2 linked regions of the Homo sapiens genome follow. The protein of the gene in region 1 interacts with the protein of each later gene in a pairwise test. Each region holds a gene or a part of one and is shown on either strand. Other genes may lie near its edges.

The links.
Region 2: the proteins of PHF24 (region 1) and ZNF552 interact in binary tests that used the Homo sapiens proteins (3 or more experiments, as listed by UniProt).

The regions. Positions count from the first base shown.
Region 1 is NC_000009.12:34,967,626-34,976,405, reverse strand, and holds part of PHF24 (PHD finger protein 24), read right to left. Parts: intron 5,112-8,780; coding exon of another isoform or gene 5,108-5,111; coding exon 4,730-5,107; intron 4,061-4,729; coding exon 3,875-4,060; intron 255-3,874; coding exon 176-254; intron 1-175.
Region 2 is NC_000019.10:57,805,734-57,812,845, forward strand, and holds the end of ZNF552 (zinc finger protein 552), read right to left. Parts: intron 3,371-7,112; coding exon 2,307-3,370; 3' UTR 1,349-2,306; downstream 1-1,348. UniProt on the Homo sapiens protein: May be involved in transcriptional regulation.

The sequences.
Region 1 (8,780 bases):
GTCACCCAGGCTGTGACAGGGATAGGTGACTCTGCTGGCCAACAACTCAGGAACAAGGACTCATTTACCCTCTACCCACTAAATATGGAACACTCCTTTCATGGTTCATTCTAGAAAGCCTGAAGGAGAAATCTGCCCGGCCCCTCTCCATCCATGCAGCACCACCCAACCTTACCAGGGATGACTTTACACCGCTGAAAGGTCTCCGTGAGGCTATACATTTCCTCCTCAGTAAGCAGCAAGTTGATGTTGTCCTGAAAATAAGGAAGAGCTGAGTCGGTGGCCATACAGGCCAGTAAGAAAGGCCAGGGTCAAGGGGGCTAGAAATAGAATTTCAACTGGAAAGCAGTTCCAAGATCATCTAATCCCAGCCTCCTATTCACAATCAATGAGATTGAGGCCCCAGAGAGGAGAAAGGACTTGGCCAGAGTTGTCTTTACTCTGGGGCAGAATCTTCCCCAAGAACCCAGATATCCTGACTCCAGCACTGAGTCCCTTTACTAAAACAGTGGTTTTCTCCTCTGAGCTAACCTAGGGATTTCTTGGAAGTGCCTTAGGAAGCTGCTGCAGGGAATAAGGGGGCTAGTGAGTAGGCAGGTTGTGAATCCCTATCTCCATCAAGCAGAGCGGCTCCATCTCCATCCCTTTTATCTACTTGGCTTCTGTGTTAGGCTGTGCTAAAAATGTATTTTAGTTAAAAAAAAAAAAAGTTTAATCCTAGCTCTGCTCCAAGTGGGTTGTATCACTTTAAATAACCCCAGAATGGTTTTAAAAGATGCCATTATTACAAGGCTCCTAAAGCCAAATGAGTTTTTTTGTAGTGCCACAGAAGTTTTAATTCCAAAGGAGCACCAATATCTTATTGTGTTGACGTTACCATACAGTCTTTAAACTATCAAAGATCCTTTCTAGTACAAGGTCATTTTCTTCCTCTGAGATACCCGCAAAGTACAAGAGCAGATATTTCATGAGTATTCATACGTGGATTTCATAAAGAACTCAAACCATTCTTTTTCTTCCATAACACTTTTTAAAAACTAATATATAATAGTTGTATTTTTCTTTCAAACCATACTTTCAATAAACACCTACTGAGCACCTAGTAAACACTGGGCGCCACAGTGGTGTGTAACACTGTGAGATGTTCAGTGTGGCTGAGGTTTGGAGTACATGTGAGTGTGTGTGTGAGGGAAGGAGGGGGCCTACTATGAAGTACCTCCAATACCCTTTATCGAGCCCCTCAAATTAGGCCTTTATTCTGAGGGCAAAAGGGAGCCACCAAAGGGTTTTCAAGTGGGGAGTGCCGTGGTCAGATCTCTGGCTGCTGTGTGGAAGATGGATTAGAGCGGCAGAGTCTGGAGGTGTGGAGAGCAGTTGGGGGCTGCCGCAACAGTCCAGGCAAGAAATGATGAGCAGCTAAACTGAGACATGAGAATGAAGAAGGGAAGAGAGATATTAGAGGCAGCATCATCAGGACCTGATGACTCACTGGATGTGAGGCATGAGGGAGAGATTGAACTGGAATTGGTAACTGGGGCATGGTATTACTATTCACAGAGATAAGGAGTGGAGGAAGAGCAGGTTTGGGGGCAAAGATGAGTTCATTTTGGGGCATGATGAGTGTGAAGTACTTGTGAGATATCAAGGTGGATAAGTGCAAGAGACAGGAAATTTAGGTCTGGACACACAGAAATAGGAGTCATTAGTGTTTAGATGGTGGCTGTAGATGAAGTCACCAAAGAGGGCGCAGTGAGAAAAGAAGAGTATTAAACAACAGAACCCTGAGAAACAGGACTGAGACAAGAAACTAACAAAGGGCATTGAGAAAGAATGGTCAGAGACTAAGGCTGGAAGAGCATCAGTAGAGAAGAAGGTACTGGATACCAAGCAAAGACAGCTGCAGAATGTGGGAGGTAATGTTAACGGTGGTTACACCACTGAGGTGGGATTTTATTGACTTTCTATTTTCTCTCATTTCCATATCTTATGCAATAATTCTCATAAAAATACTTAAATCCTAAAGAAAAGAGAGAGGAATAAAGAAGTAATAAATACTTCAGAGAGATCAAGTAAGAAGATGCCTCAGAAAAGGTCAGTGGACTTGACAATTAGGAGGTGACTGGTGACCTTAGGAAGCAACAGTTCTGCAGAATGATGGATGCAGATGTCAGATTATATGATAGGTGGTTGAAAAACCATAGGAGATGGTGAAATTCTTTTAAGAAGTTTGGCTGTGGGGCCAGGTGCAATGGCTTGTGCCTGTAGTCCCAGCTACTGAGGAAGCTGAGGCAGGAGGATTGCTTAGGTCTAGGAGTTCAAGGCTGCAGTGCTACGATCGCACCACTGCACTTCAGCCAGGTGACACAGTGAGACCCTGTCTCATAAAAAGAAAAAAAAGAAGAAGAAGATTTGTTGGCTGTGAAGGGAAGGAAAGAAAGGAGAGGTACTTGGAAGGAGGCTCTGTAAAAAGCCCAGTGGAGCATGGTGGCAATGATGGTAGGACTGTGTCAGGAAGCTGGGGAGGGAGCAGTGTGTTCCTGGGGGTTAGGGAGGTGACCCCTTCACCCCAGTCCTATAGCAGCAGCACACCGCAAAGCAGAGTGGCCGAGATGAAAGGATGGCATTTGGAAGGGGTGACAGGCACTAGAGAAGGTCGCCGGTACAGCAGGGTCTGCTGCAGTGTACTCCATGGGGACAGGTGTTTCAGTGGCTGAAAATAGCTGTTCCATAACAAGCCATAGAGGAAGAGTTATTTGTTAGAAAGTGGCACATCTCTGCTTTCGTCTAAGCAGCAGGAAGAAGGGGGGATCAGCAGGTGCTCCTCACTCTGAAATCAATAAACAATGACGATATCTGCAGGACAACAGATCAATAAGGCAAGACTTGAACTCTATTCAGGTGTAGTGAGAAATGGATATAAATCTGGCTTTCAATGGAAACCTTAGACTCTGTCCTTCATTAAAAGTTAGAAGGCATTTATATATAATTTGCGAAGTTCTGAATCAATAGAGCTTTGTCATTTAATTCACATAATAACCACTTCAAAGAGGAAGAGCAAATGCTTATGAGTCAGGTGGCAGGCTGAGTGAGGATCTCAGGCCTAGGAAGTTTTCCTGTGATAGAATCTACCCCTACTGGAAGCAAGCTGGTTAGGATCTCAGGTTAGTTTTCATATGGATACAATGAATGACAACTATAGACTATTAGAGAAAGAACTGCTCCAAGCAGAATTACTTTTGAGTAATTAGGCCCCAGTCAATCTCCTAGCTCAGAGGTTCTCTACCGGGGGTGATTTTGCTACCTTCACATTGAGATGTATGCTACCGGCATCTAGGGGATTAAGGCCAGGGTGCCGCTAAACATCCTACAATGCACTTGGCCCCTCAAACAAGTAACTAGCCAGCCTAAAATGTACTGAGGTTGAGAAACCCCATCCTAGCTCTAGGTCTCTTGTATGTACCATTGGAAAAATCTTTTTTTTTTTTTTTTTTTCGAGACAGAGTCTCGCTCTGTCGCCAGGCTGGAGTGCAGTGGCGCGATTTCGGCTCGCTGCAACCTCCGCCTCCTGGGTTTAAGTGATTCTCCTACCTCAGCCTCCCGAGTAGCTGGGACTACAGGCGCGTGCCACCACGCCCAGCTAATTTTTGTATTTTTAGTAGAGATGGGGTTTCACCATGTTGGCCAGGATGGTCTCAATCTCTTGACCTCGTGATCTTCCGGCACTGGCCTCCCAAAGTGCTGGGATTACAGGCATGAGCCACCGCGCCCAGCCCATTGGAAAATTCTTTAGGTCACTGCCTAAAATCAAGTGTTCTAAGACCGGGCCTCCAGGAAAAGTGCCAAGTCCTCTGCTGTCCCTGCAGTCCAGACTTACACAGTAGTGGCAGCTCCAGCCTGTTTCTGTGTGGGCCATCTCCGTCACCTCCGCTGCACTGTCTCCTTGGATGTAGCCCATGCGGCGCAGGCAGCCATCATGGAAAACCCTGGTGCAGACCCTGCACGGGAAGAGGCTCTCAGCTGTCCAGACCTCACAAACATCACACATCTCATCGTTGACAACCTGCAGAAAGATGGCAGGAGGAAACAGGGATGTGTAAATGTAGGCAGCAAGATTCCAAGGCCACTAAGCACAGAGCTACCTGCATGGGGCTGAGTCTTCCCAGATTAGCCTAGAGGAACAGCCCCAACTGAAGCCATTGTTGAGGTTTTCTTTCTGGACGACAAGAACCAGGAGGTCCTTCCAGCTGCTCATGTCTTTGTGACCATGTTTATGAACAGGGAGCTACTAGCACTTTTAGAAAGAACAATCTGTTGTGAGAGATTGTTCCAGGCATTGCAGGACATTTATCATCCCTGCTTTTCTTGGTACCAAACACCAGTAGCCACCTGGTGTTGTGACCTCCCCAAACTCCTCCCTCCCAAATTTCCAATTGCCTCCCGCAGGGTGTAGTACTATCCATGGTTGAAAACCCATGGCAGCGGGGAAGAGGGGGAGGTTCGACAGAAGACCTGCCACAGCATCATTCTTTATCATCCATTGCCCCAAGCCTTTCACTAAGATGAATCCAGGATATAACAAACATTTTATTCTTACAGAAGAAATTCAAAGATTTTTTTGGACTCAGCTCCATTTTTCCGGTTTTGAGGATCACCTTACCCACATCCATCTTCCCTGTCCTGCTCCCTGATGCACTAAGACTTGAGGATCCTGTCCTAACTGGATACTCACAGGCTCTCTGGGCTCCAGGCAGATTTCTGGAGGTTTGTCATCATCCAGCTTCCGGGTGGGGCGGATGAACGCAGGGGGTGTGAATCGACTTGTCCTGTCAAACTCCTCAGGCTCCACGCCGCGCCCATCTCGGAGCCGCTCCCAGGCTGCGCGGCCGGCACTACTCTCTTCCTGGACCACCGAGGTTCCTGCTTCTGCTTCCTTCTCCTCCTGTACCTCCTGGACGGAGCCCTCTACAGTGCCACGGCGGGACCCTGGCAGCTCACCTGTGCGTCGGATGGAAGGCCTGTCCCGCAGCCCATCCTTGAAAGCAGACACAGCCAGACTCACCTTCTGCACCTGCTCCACTGTCTGCCGCTTGGACATCAACACCCCCATGGCTCTGTGGACAAAAAGCAGAGGGGCACAGGTTCAGCCAATGGCTGAGGATGTCAGGCTAATCAGTTTCAACCTAAGTGGCAAGGGCTATTAAACAGTTTCTCCCTCTTCTAGAACATGGTGGGGGTGGAGACAGCACATGTTAAGGATCAGAAGATGTTGGTTCTACTTCTTTCCTAAATTTTATTTATTTATTTATTTAATTTATTTATTAGAGATGAGGTCTTACTATGTTGCCCAGGCTCTTCTTGAACTCCTGGGCTTTAGTGATTCCCTTGGTTCAGCCTCCTAAGTAGCTGGGATCACAGGCCTACCACCTTGCCTGGATGACTTTGGTTCGATTTCTGACAGGCCTTGCAACTTTGGTTTTCCCATCTATGGAATGAGGGCTATTTCCCCAGCCCACTTCACAGGGATGTTACAAGGATAATGTAAGAAAATGGGCATAATGGTGCTTCGTAGACTGGAAAGCACTCTACGTGCATGAAATGATATCTCTGTCTCCCTTCCTGTCCTAAAACCAATTTAGTCCAGGGGTCCTACACCTCTGCTACTTCGAAATGGTTGGAGACTTCAGAATCCAAATTTCTCCTCTACCCTGCAAGAAGACTCAAGGCTTAAAGCAAGCTGGCAGCAACACAGTTCAGGCCTTTTGAGACAAGAAAAGCTCCTTCAGTAGGTGCCATGAACAATCCATCTGGGGCTAATCCTCATCAAATGCCTACTTTTTAAGTCAATGAACTCCTAGTTTTAGAGGACTCCTGAATTAGTCAGTAAGGAAACTCTGCCACCCGTATCCATGTGGTCAAGGTCACACAAACACTCCTTTGCCCCCTCTCATTAGTAGCTGTGCCTCTCTGTGGGTCTGCTTATCTATTACAGACACTGGCCTATTACAAAGCTCTAAGGTACCTCTCACACTTCTAAGGCTGCGCTGTCACTCCCACATTTTCTGCTTTAATTCTTCTGAACTGTTCAAGAAAGGTCCATATCCTTTACAGGTTAAAAAGTAACATCAGACCTGCTCTTCTCTGTGGTACCAGAGCACAGCATTGGACAGTGAGGGCATGACAGGGCACATTGCAAAGCTGGTCTGCTATTTCCTAGCCTGAGGAGACTTAGTGGAAGTCAGCTGGGGAATTCTTTTTCTAAGTAAAGTGGAGCAGAGTCCATTTTAGCCTTGCTCTCAATCCATTCTAATCAAGGCTTATTGAACAGTATTATGTGCAAGGCACTAACTGCTCATCATAGGAAACAGAAGACAGGAGAACAGTCTCACCACTCAAGCTACTTAATATTAGAAACCAAAGAAGTCAAAGTGCTGAGAGTACCTAAAGGAAGGCGAGACCCACCACACTACTGGTGGTCAAAGTGGACCTTGAAGGATGCACAGGCGGTTATGCTCAGTTTGTTTGGGGGAAAAGGTGACAGCGGGTAGGAGGAGAAGTAAGGCCAGTTCGAAGGTTACTGTTAATATCATAGTCCAGACAAGAGGTAGAGGGTTTAAATGGAAATGATGATAGCAGGAATAATACTGACTGAGTGTATCTGTTACCATGGAAATAGAATTAGGGAAATCTAGGAATAAATTGATAATTGATTGGATGAAGGATAAAGGGAAAGAGGGCAGTTTTTTGTTTTTTTGGTTTTTTTTTTTTGAGACAGAGTCTCGCTCTGTCGCCCAGGCTGGAGTGCAGTGGCACGATCTTGGCTCACTGCAACCTCTGCCTCCTGAGTTCAAGTGATTCACCTGCCTCAGCCTCCTAAGTAGCTGGGACTACAGGCACATGCCACCATGCCCGGCTAATTTTTTGTATTTTTAGTAGAGACGGGGTTTCACCGTGTTAGCCAGGATGGTCTCGATCTCCTGACCTCATGATCCGCCCACCTCGGCCTCCTAAAGTGCTGGGATTACAGGCGTGAGCCACCGTGCCTGGCGAAAGAGGGCAGTTTTAAATGGACTAACTAGAAGAATGGTAGTGCCACTTACAGAAATTGGAAATAAGAGGGATAATTAAATTGGATTTTGTATATGTTGAATTAAAGATGTCCCTGGGACATTCAGGTGTCGAGTTATCCCCTGATTAAAACTTTCAGTGCTTCCTTCAGCTTTCAGGAGGAAGTCCCCACAATCAGTCTCTTTACTGTGGCCTGTGAGGCCCTGCATGGTCTGGCCTCCCTTCTTTACTCTGTGTCCCAACCATAATGGCCTTATTTCAGTCTTTATTTGCTATACTCCCTCTGTTTTGGGGAAGTTTGAACATTCCTCCCCACCTGACTAGTGCCTATTTGTCTATCAGAGCTAAGGCTCAAGTCTCATTTCCTTGGGGAAGTCACTGCTGACTCCAGTCCAGGTCGGAGTGCTCACAGCACCATGCCCTTCTGCTCTGGGCACTTACCTTCATCATTACATATTCAATAGGATGATTACTGATCAATGTCAGTTTCCCCTATTAGACTGTTTTATCCCACACAGTACTTATCTCCACTGCCTAGCAATGTGTCTGTCTATTAAGCATCTAACAGAATAGATTCTTAATAAACATTTTCCAATTAGCTAATTAATTGTGGAGAATTCCTTTTACTTTTAAAAATGAAACCTTAATACATGTACTATCTGATGACAGCCCCATCTTCTTTTCGGAAACACTGCTTGTATGTGCCACAGTGGTGCGAACTCCTACACTGCTCACGTGCTTGCCTTGCCACTACTACTACCAAGGAAATTCATATTCTTGAATTTATAAACTGATTGATAGGAAAGGAAAGAACCACCTCCCCGACTCCATTTATAAATTTGTTTGTAAAACTGAAGTATGTGACGAAGGAACATTGACTTTAAATACTTAATACTGCCTTAAAGGGCAGTGGCACAGGAGATTTATTGAAGAAAGATTTATTGAGCACATTCAGGAAATCATTTAGGGTATTCATGCCTCAGTGGACAACTAAGAATAAATTGTAATTAAAATGAAAATATCTTAATCCCCAAATAAATTCATAAAAAATTGTGATTAAGAAATCTTTTTTTCATTAGCTGGAAACAAATATTAAGCAATAGGGAAATAAATTACGTACCACGAAAGACTAAACAACACGGAAAACACTGAGGTAGAAGTATATTTATTGGTGGGAAAGATACTCAAAATATGCAAACATATTAACAAAAATAGCAAGTTACAAAAATGCTCATGTTATGATCTAATTTTTGTACTGTATGTACTTTTAATCTTTTTGTAATCTATATTTTCCAATTCTCCCACATTGCACATTAATTAGATAATAAAACAAATCCTAGGGTTGGCAACTTGATGACTTGTTTTTGTTTTGGGTCCCCTGTTCTATGATTCAGAACCTGTTGCTGGTTGCTTTGGGCTTTAGTTCTCTGTCTGTTAATGAGTGTATTTGGAACATATAGTCTGAAGCATTTAGAATGCTCATGTTGTTTTTCATCTTCTTTTAAAAGTTCATATGATCTAATGAGGGAATCTAGCCAGGGTGGGGTGGGGATGGAGAGAAGAGTATGTATATGTTAAATTTTTTGCTGAGGCTTTGGACCCAGTGGGTTCTTGAAGTGACAGGGCTGGCCCTGTAGTCCCCAGATGCTGCTCAAATGCCTCATGGGCAACAGCGTGTTCGATGGCTGGGTGGGATGCAACTCCCCAACTTACAG
Region 2 (7,112 bases), on another chromosome or scaffold:
CCACCTGCCTCGGCCTCCCAAAGTGCTGGGTTTACAGGCGTGAGCCACCACGCCCTGCCCTCAATTTCTTTTTTCACATTGACATCTATCTCAAAGGAAGAGCAACTTAACCAATGCCTTTGTGGTACACATCAGTGGCTACAACTTTCACAATTACAGCACAGATAAAAAAGGCATCTGAATAACAGCATAAACATGGCATCTGAGCTCCAAAATTTCATCTCCTTACAAGAAAGTGGTTATTTTCCAGTGACTGCAGGAATAGTTTCACACTGGGTACTGGCATTATCTCAGAATAAATGTTTTTGTTTTATTTTTTTTGAGACAGCGTCTAACTGTCGCCTAGGCTGGAGTGCAGTGGTGTGATCTCAGCTCACTGTAACCTCTGTTGCCTGGGTTCAAGTGATTCTCCTGCCTCAGCCTCCTGAGTAGCTGGGATTACAGGCATGTGCCACCACGCCTGGCTAATTTTTGTATTTTTAGTAGAGATGGCGTTTCACTATGTTGGCCAGGCTGGTCTCAAACTCCTGACCTCAAGTGATCCACCCACCTTGGCCTCCCAAAGTGCTGGGATTACAGGCGTGAGCCACCACGCCTGGCCTCAGAATCAATTACAGGCGCAGTGGCTCACGACTCAGGCCTGTAATCCCAGCACTTTGGGAGTCCAAGGCAGGCAGATCATTTGAGGCCAGGAGTCTGAGATGAACCTGGTAACACGGCAAAACCCCATCTCTTCTAAAAATCAAAAAACAGCCAGCATGGTGGCTCATGCATGTAATCCCAGCTATGTGGGAGGCTCAGGTGGGAGAATCGCTTGAACCTGGGAGGTAGAGGTTGCAATGAGCCAAAATCACGCCACTGCACTCCAACCTGGTCGACAGTCTTTAAAAAAAAAAAAAAAGCAGCCGCACGCGATGGCTCATGCCTGTAATGCTAGCACTATGGGAGGCCGAGATGGGCGGATCACAAGGTCAGGAGATCGAGACGATCCTGGCTAACACAGTGAAACCCTGTCTCTACTAAAAATACAAAAAATTAGCCAGGCGTGTTTGCGGGCGCCTGTAGTCCACAGGACTGGCTGAGGCAGGACAATGGCGTGAACCCGGAAGGCAGAGCTTGCAGTGACCTGAGATTGCCCCACTGCACTCCAGCCTGGGGGACAGAGTGAGACTCCACCTCAAAAAAAAAAACACAAAAAAACACAAGCAGCAACTCAAATATCCATAAACGGATGAATGAATATATAATGACATTTCATGGCAGACTATACTTCTCAGCAATATACAACAAATTAACTCATGTCTACATTGATATCAAAATAAGCATGATGCAGGAGAGCACCCAGGGATTATAAGAGGAAACACTTTATTACATCAGTCAGAAAATTCTAGAAAATGGAAAGTATTATACAGCAGAGTAAATCAATGGTTGTCTGCATAGAGAAAAACTTTATAAAGGCTCCAGGTGAATACAAAGGTGATAGATTAGATAAATTCATTATTGTGACTCTGATGATGGTTTCATGGGATTATAAGAAAATTCAAGCCAGGAGCAGTGGCTCACGCCTGCAATCCCAACACTTTGAGAGGCCAAGGCGGGCAGATCACGAGGTCAGGAGATTGAGAACTTCCTGGCTAACAGGGTGAAACCCCATCTCTACTAAAAATACAAAAAAGGTAGGAGTGGTGGTGGTTGCCTGTAGTCCCAGCTATTAGGGAGGCTGAGGCAGGAGAATGGCATGAACCCAGGAGGCAGGGCTTGCAGTGAGCCGAGATTATGCCACTGTACTCCAGCCTGGGTGACAGAGCGAGGCTGTCTCAAAAAAAAGAAAAAGAAAATTCAAGACTTATCCTACAGCTCAAATATGCATACTTTATTGGATGTCATTTATATATTTTATTTTTGAAACAGGGTCTCACTCTGTGGTCCAGACTGGACTGCAGTGTTGCAATCTCGGCTCACTGCAACCTCTGCCTCCCAGGCTCAAGCAAATCCTCCCATGTAGCAATCCTCCCACATGACAGCTCTCCTGTGAGTTATGCAGCCAGACTTCTGGATAAATATCCTGTATTTGTCACACTAGTAAGGCCTTCATTCAGTGTTAACTATAATCCTGAAGGAATACAGAGGTGTGGCTACAAAACTGCCCAAATTTATTTTACTTGTAAGGACTCTTCTCTAGTGTGAACTCTCCAATATCCAAGGAGAGCAGACCTTTGGGTAAACATTTTCCACATTTGCTGCAATCACAGGATCTTACTCAGGTGTGTATTCTCCAATATTTAATGAGACTGGACTCACTGCACTCATAAGCCCTTTCTTTTGTGAACTCTCTGATGATGACGAAGTGAAGAGATTTGCCTAAATTTTTTTTCACATTCACTGCACCCGTAAGGCTTTTCTCCAGTGTGAACTCTCCTGTGTTTAGTGAGACTGGAGCTTTCGGCAAAAGATTTCCCACATTCACTGCACTCATAAGGCTTCTGACCAGTGTGAACTCTCTTATGAACACGGAATGTAGAGCTGTGGGTAAATGACTTCCCACAATCACTGCATTCATATGGCCTTTCTCCAGTGTGAACTCTCTGGTGTGCAATGAGGTGGTACTTGTGCCTAAAAAATTTCTGACAAACCTCACACTCATATGGCTTCTCTCCAGTGTGAATTCTCTGGTGTACAAGGAGGTGGGACTTACTGTTAAATAATTTCCCACATATCCCACACGTATAAGGTTTTTCTCTAGTGTGAACTCCTTGATGATTACTGAAGCTGTCATATTTGCTAGAGGATTTCCCACATTCACACCACACAGAAGGTTCTTCTGTAGGGAGCAGTCTCTCGTGCTGACTGAGTATATCTTTGGTGCTAAAATGTTTCATGCATCCTCCACAGCTGTAATGGCTTTTTCCCCCATGAAACAGAGACACACACTCAGTTTTGCTGTTTGACTTCCCAGTGTGAGTGGCCTCTTGCTGGAGTAATCCTGACCTGAGCAAAAAGTCTTTCCCACTCTCACTGAAGACAGATGACTCCCCTGACACATGCAACTTACACCTCTTCGCAAACAACGCCTCCTCAACACTCCCTCTGTAGGGTTTCTCTCCAATGTGCTCATTCTGGTGCTGATGAAAGTTTCCACTGTCATACAATTTATTCCCCCAGGCCTCACACCTGTGCAGTTTCTGCTTGTGATGTGTTCCCTGATGATCTGCCACATGCAAAATGTCTCCCAAGATCGGGCCACACATCTCACAGGGGTGGGCCTTCTTGGGAGACACACCTGCCATAGGAGTCCTGACCTGAGTCTCTCTTTGTATATAAATACTCTGCTTAGAAGGTGCCGCCTCATCTTCCACTCCACACCAACAACCTGAAAGCAAGAAAATGCTGGTGAAGTGCATGTTAACTCTGGTGGGAAGGCACAGACCACCCACAAGTGTATCTGAAAAACTGAGGAATTACTCCAAGGAAGTACTTGGAGGAACAGGATGTTGGCTTCAGGTGGAAGATGGTGCTATGTATTATTACTGGACTATAATGGTCACAGAATGTAGGAGGCCTCATAACATAAAGGACACAACCATGTATGTAACACAGGGAGTAGAGGCAGGGTCTACAATCCCTGCATCTGCAAACCACTCATCTGCAGAATTTATGTCCTCATGACATGCGAGTGCTGTAGAGAGGGATTTGTCCAGGCCAAGGAAAACACAAGCACAACACAGCAGCTTCTGCTTGAGGACAGTTTAACAAAGTGTACACATTTGCTAACACAAAACCTGTATGCTAATACTGGAAACCACTGCAGATGAAGATGTGAATAAAATTAAGATGTGAGGTCCAGAGATGTGAAGATTATTCAGGGGAATAAATATCAGACTACAAGCTCATGTACAAATCAGTTAAAGGATTTAAAAAAAAAAAAAGTACAACTGACAAGGAGTACAACTGACAATTCTGAGGTTCTTAACAATGGGGAAGAGGCCAGTACCAGTGGCTCACAGCTGTAAACCCAATGTAGGAAGATCACCTGAGCCCAGAAATCCAAGACCAGCCTGGGAAACATGGTGAGACCCTGTCTCTACAGAAATTATTTTTAAAATGGCCAAGCATGGTGACTCATGCCTACAATCCCAGCACTTTGGGAGGCTAAGGCAAAGGGATCACTCAGGCCCAGGAGATCAAGACCAGCCTGAGCAACACAGCAAAACCTCTCTACAAACATTAGCCAGGTGTGATGGTGTGCACCTGCAGTCCTAGCTACTCAGGAGACTGAGGCTGGAGGATCACTTGAGCCCAGGAGGTTGAGGCTGTGTGAACTATATTCACACCACTGCACTCCAGGTAACAAAAATGACAGTGTGAGAACCTGTCTCAAAAAAGAAAAGAGAAGAGGAGAGGAGAGGGGAGGGAAAGGGAGAAGAGGGAAGAGGAAAGAGAAGAGAGAAGAAAAGGGCCAGGTGTCGTGGGTCATGCCTGTAATCCCAGCACTTTGGGAGGCAGAGCTGGGCGGATCACCTGACGTCAGGAGTTTGAGACCAGCCTGACCAACATGGAGAAACACTGTCTCTACTAAAAATACAAAATATTAGCCTTTGGGGAAAAGAAAGAGAGATCAGACTGTTACTGTGTCGATGTAGAAAGAAGCAGACATAAGAGACTCCATTTTGTTCAGTACTAAGAAAAATTATTCTGCCTTGAGATGCTGTTAATCTGTAACCCTACTCCCAACCCTGTGCTCCAGAAACATGTGCTGTGTCAACTCAAGGTTAAATGGATTTTGGGCTATGCAGGACGTGCTTTGTTAAACAAGTGCTTCAAGGCAGCATGCTTGTTAAAAGTCATCACTACTCCCTACTCTCAAGGACCCAGGGACACAAAACACTGCCTAGGAAAGCCAGGTATTGCCCAAGGTTTCTCCCCATGTGATAGCCTGAGATATGGCCTCATGGGAAGGGAAAGACCTGACAGCCCGACGCCAGTAAAGGGGCTGTGCTGAGGATTAGTAAAAGAGGAAGGCCTCTTTGCAGTTGAGATAAGAGGAGGGCATCTGTCTCCCGCTCATCCCTGGGCAATGGAATGTCTGGGTGTTAAAACCCAATTGTATATTCCATATACTGAGATAGGAGAAAACCGCCTTAGGGCTGGAGGTGAGACATGCTGGAGGCAATACTGCTCTTTAAGGCATTGAGATGTTTATGTATATGCACATCAAAAGCACAGCACTTTTTTCTTTACCTTGTTTATGATGCAGAGACATTTGTTCACATGTTTTCCTGCTGAACCTCTCCCCACTATTACCCTATTGACCTGCCACATGGTAGAGATAATGATCAGTAAATACTGAAGGAACTCGGAGACTGGTGGCGGCAGGGGGAAGGCAGGGTTCCTCCGTATGCTGAGCGCCAGTCCCCTGGGCCCACTTTTCTTTTTTTTTTTTATTTTTTATTCTTTATTGAGACGGAGTCTCGCTCTGTTGCTCAGGCTGGAGTGCGGTGGCACAATCGCGGCTCACTGCAAGCTCCGCCTGCCGGGTTCACGCCATTCTCCTGCCTCAGCCTCTCCGAGTAGCTGGGACTACAGGCGCCCGCCACCACGCCTGGCTAATTTTTTTGTATTTTTAGTAGAGACAGGGTTTCACCGTGGTCTCAATCTCCTGACCTCGTGATCCGCCTGCCTCGGCCTCCCAAAGTTCTGGGATTACAAGCATGAGCCACCGCACCCAGCCCACTTTTCTTTCTCTATATTTTGGATCTGTGTCTCTTTCTTTTCTCAAGTCTCTCATTCCACCTGACGAGAAACACCCACAGGTGTGGAGAGGCAGGCCACCCTTCATTAGCCGGGCATGGTGGCACATGCCTGTAATCCCAGCTACTCAGGAGGCTGAGGGCAGAATTGCTTGGGCCTGGGAGACAGAGGTTGCGGTGAGCCAGATCGCACCATTGCGCTCCAGCCTGGACAACAAGAGCGAAACTCCATCTCAAAAAAAAAAAAAAAAAAAAAAACAATGGAGAAGGCCAGGTGCAGTGGATCATGCCTGTAATCCCAGCACTGTGGGAGGCAAAGGCAGGCGGATCATGAAGTCAGGAGTTTGAGACCAGCCTGGCCAATATGGTGAAACCCCATCTCTACTAAAAATACAAAACATAGCCAGGCGTGGTGGTGCACGCCTGTAGTCCCAGCTACTTGGGAGGCTGAGGCAGAAGAATTGCTTGAACCTGGGAGGTGGAGGTTGCAGTGAGCCAAGATCGCACCACTACACTCCAGCCTGGGCAACAAAGTGAGACTCTGTCTCAAAAAAAAAAAAAAAAAAAAAAATTAGCTGGGCATAATGGCATGCACCTGTATTCCCAGCTTCTCAGGAGGCTGAAGCAGGAGAAGTGCTTCAGCCCAGGAGGCAGAGGTTGCAGTGAGCAGAGATCAAGCTACTGCACTCCAGCCTGGGCAACAGAACAAGACCCTTTCTCAAAAAACAAACAAACAAAACCAAAAACAAGAATGAAGGAGAAAAGACGATACAGAAATCATGTGTGCTTACTTGTCTGGCCCCAAAAATACTACTGAAATAGAAGAGGTTTCTGTCATGATTTGAATAAAACTCTTGACATCATGCACCACTGTCCTAGGATGCTATTTTTCAGGGACTCAGAACCCATAATGCTGAGGCCAGATTCATTTGCATCTTCTGACCACAGAAGATGATCCCACCACCAAGATAACCAAGTACATGAGACATACATGATGTAAGAACAAAGGGAAAGACAGAACAAGGAAACAGCCAACACTGGCTTAGAACAACTCAGCACATGACAGCAGACAGGAAACAATATTACAAAAAGAATTTCTGTTTTTTGAGACGGAGTCTTGCTCTGTTGCTCAGGCTGGAGCGCAGTGGCACAATCTCAGCTCACTGCAACCCCTGCCTCCTGGGTTCAAGCTATCCTCCCACCTTAGCCTCCCAAGTAGCCAGGATTAAAAGCGTGTGCCACCACACCTGGCTAATTTTTATATTTTCAGTAGAGATGGGGTTTCACCATGTCGGCCAGGCTGTTCTCGAACTCCTGGCCTCAAGTAATCCACCTACCTTGGCCTCCCTGAGTGCAGAAATTATA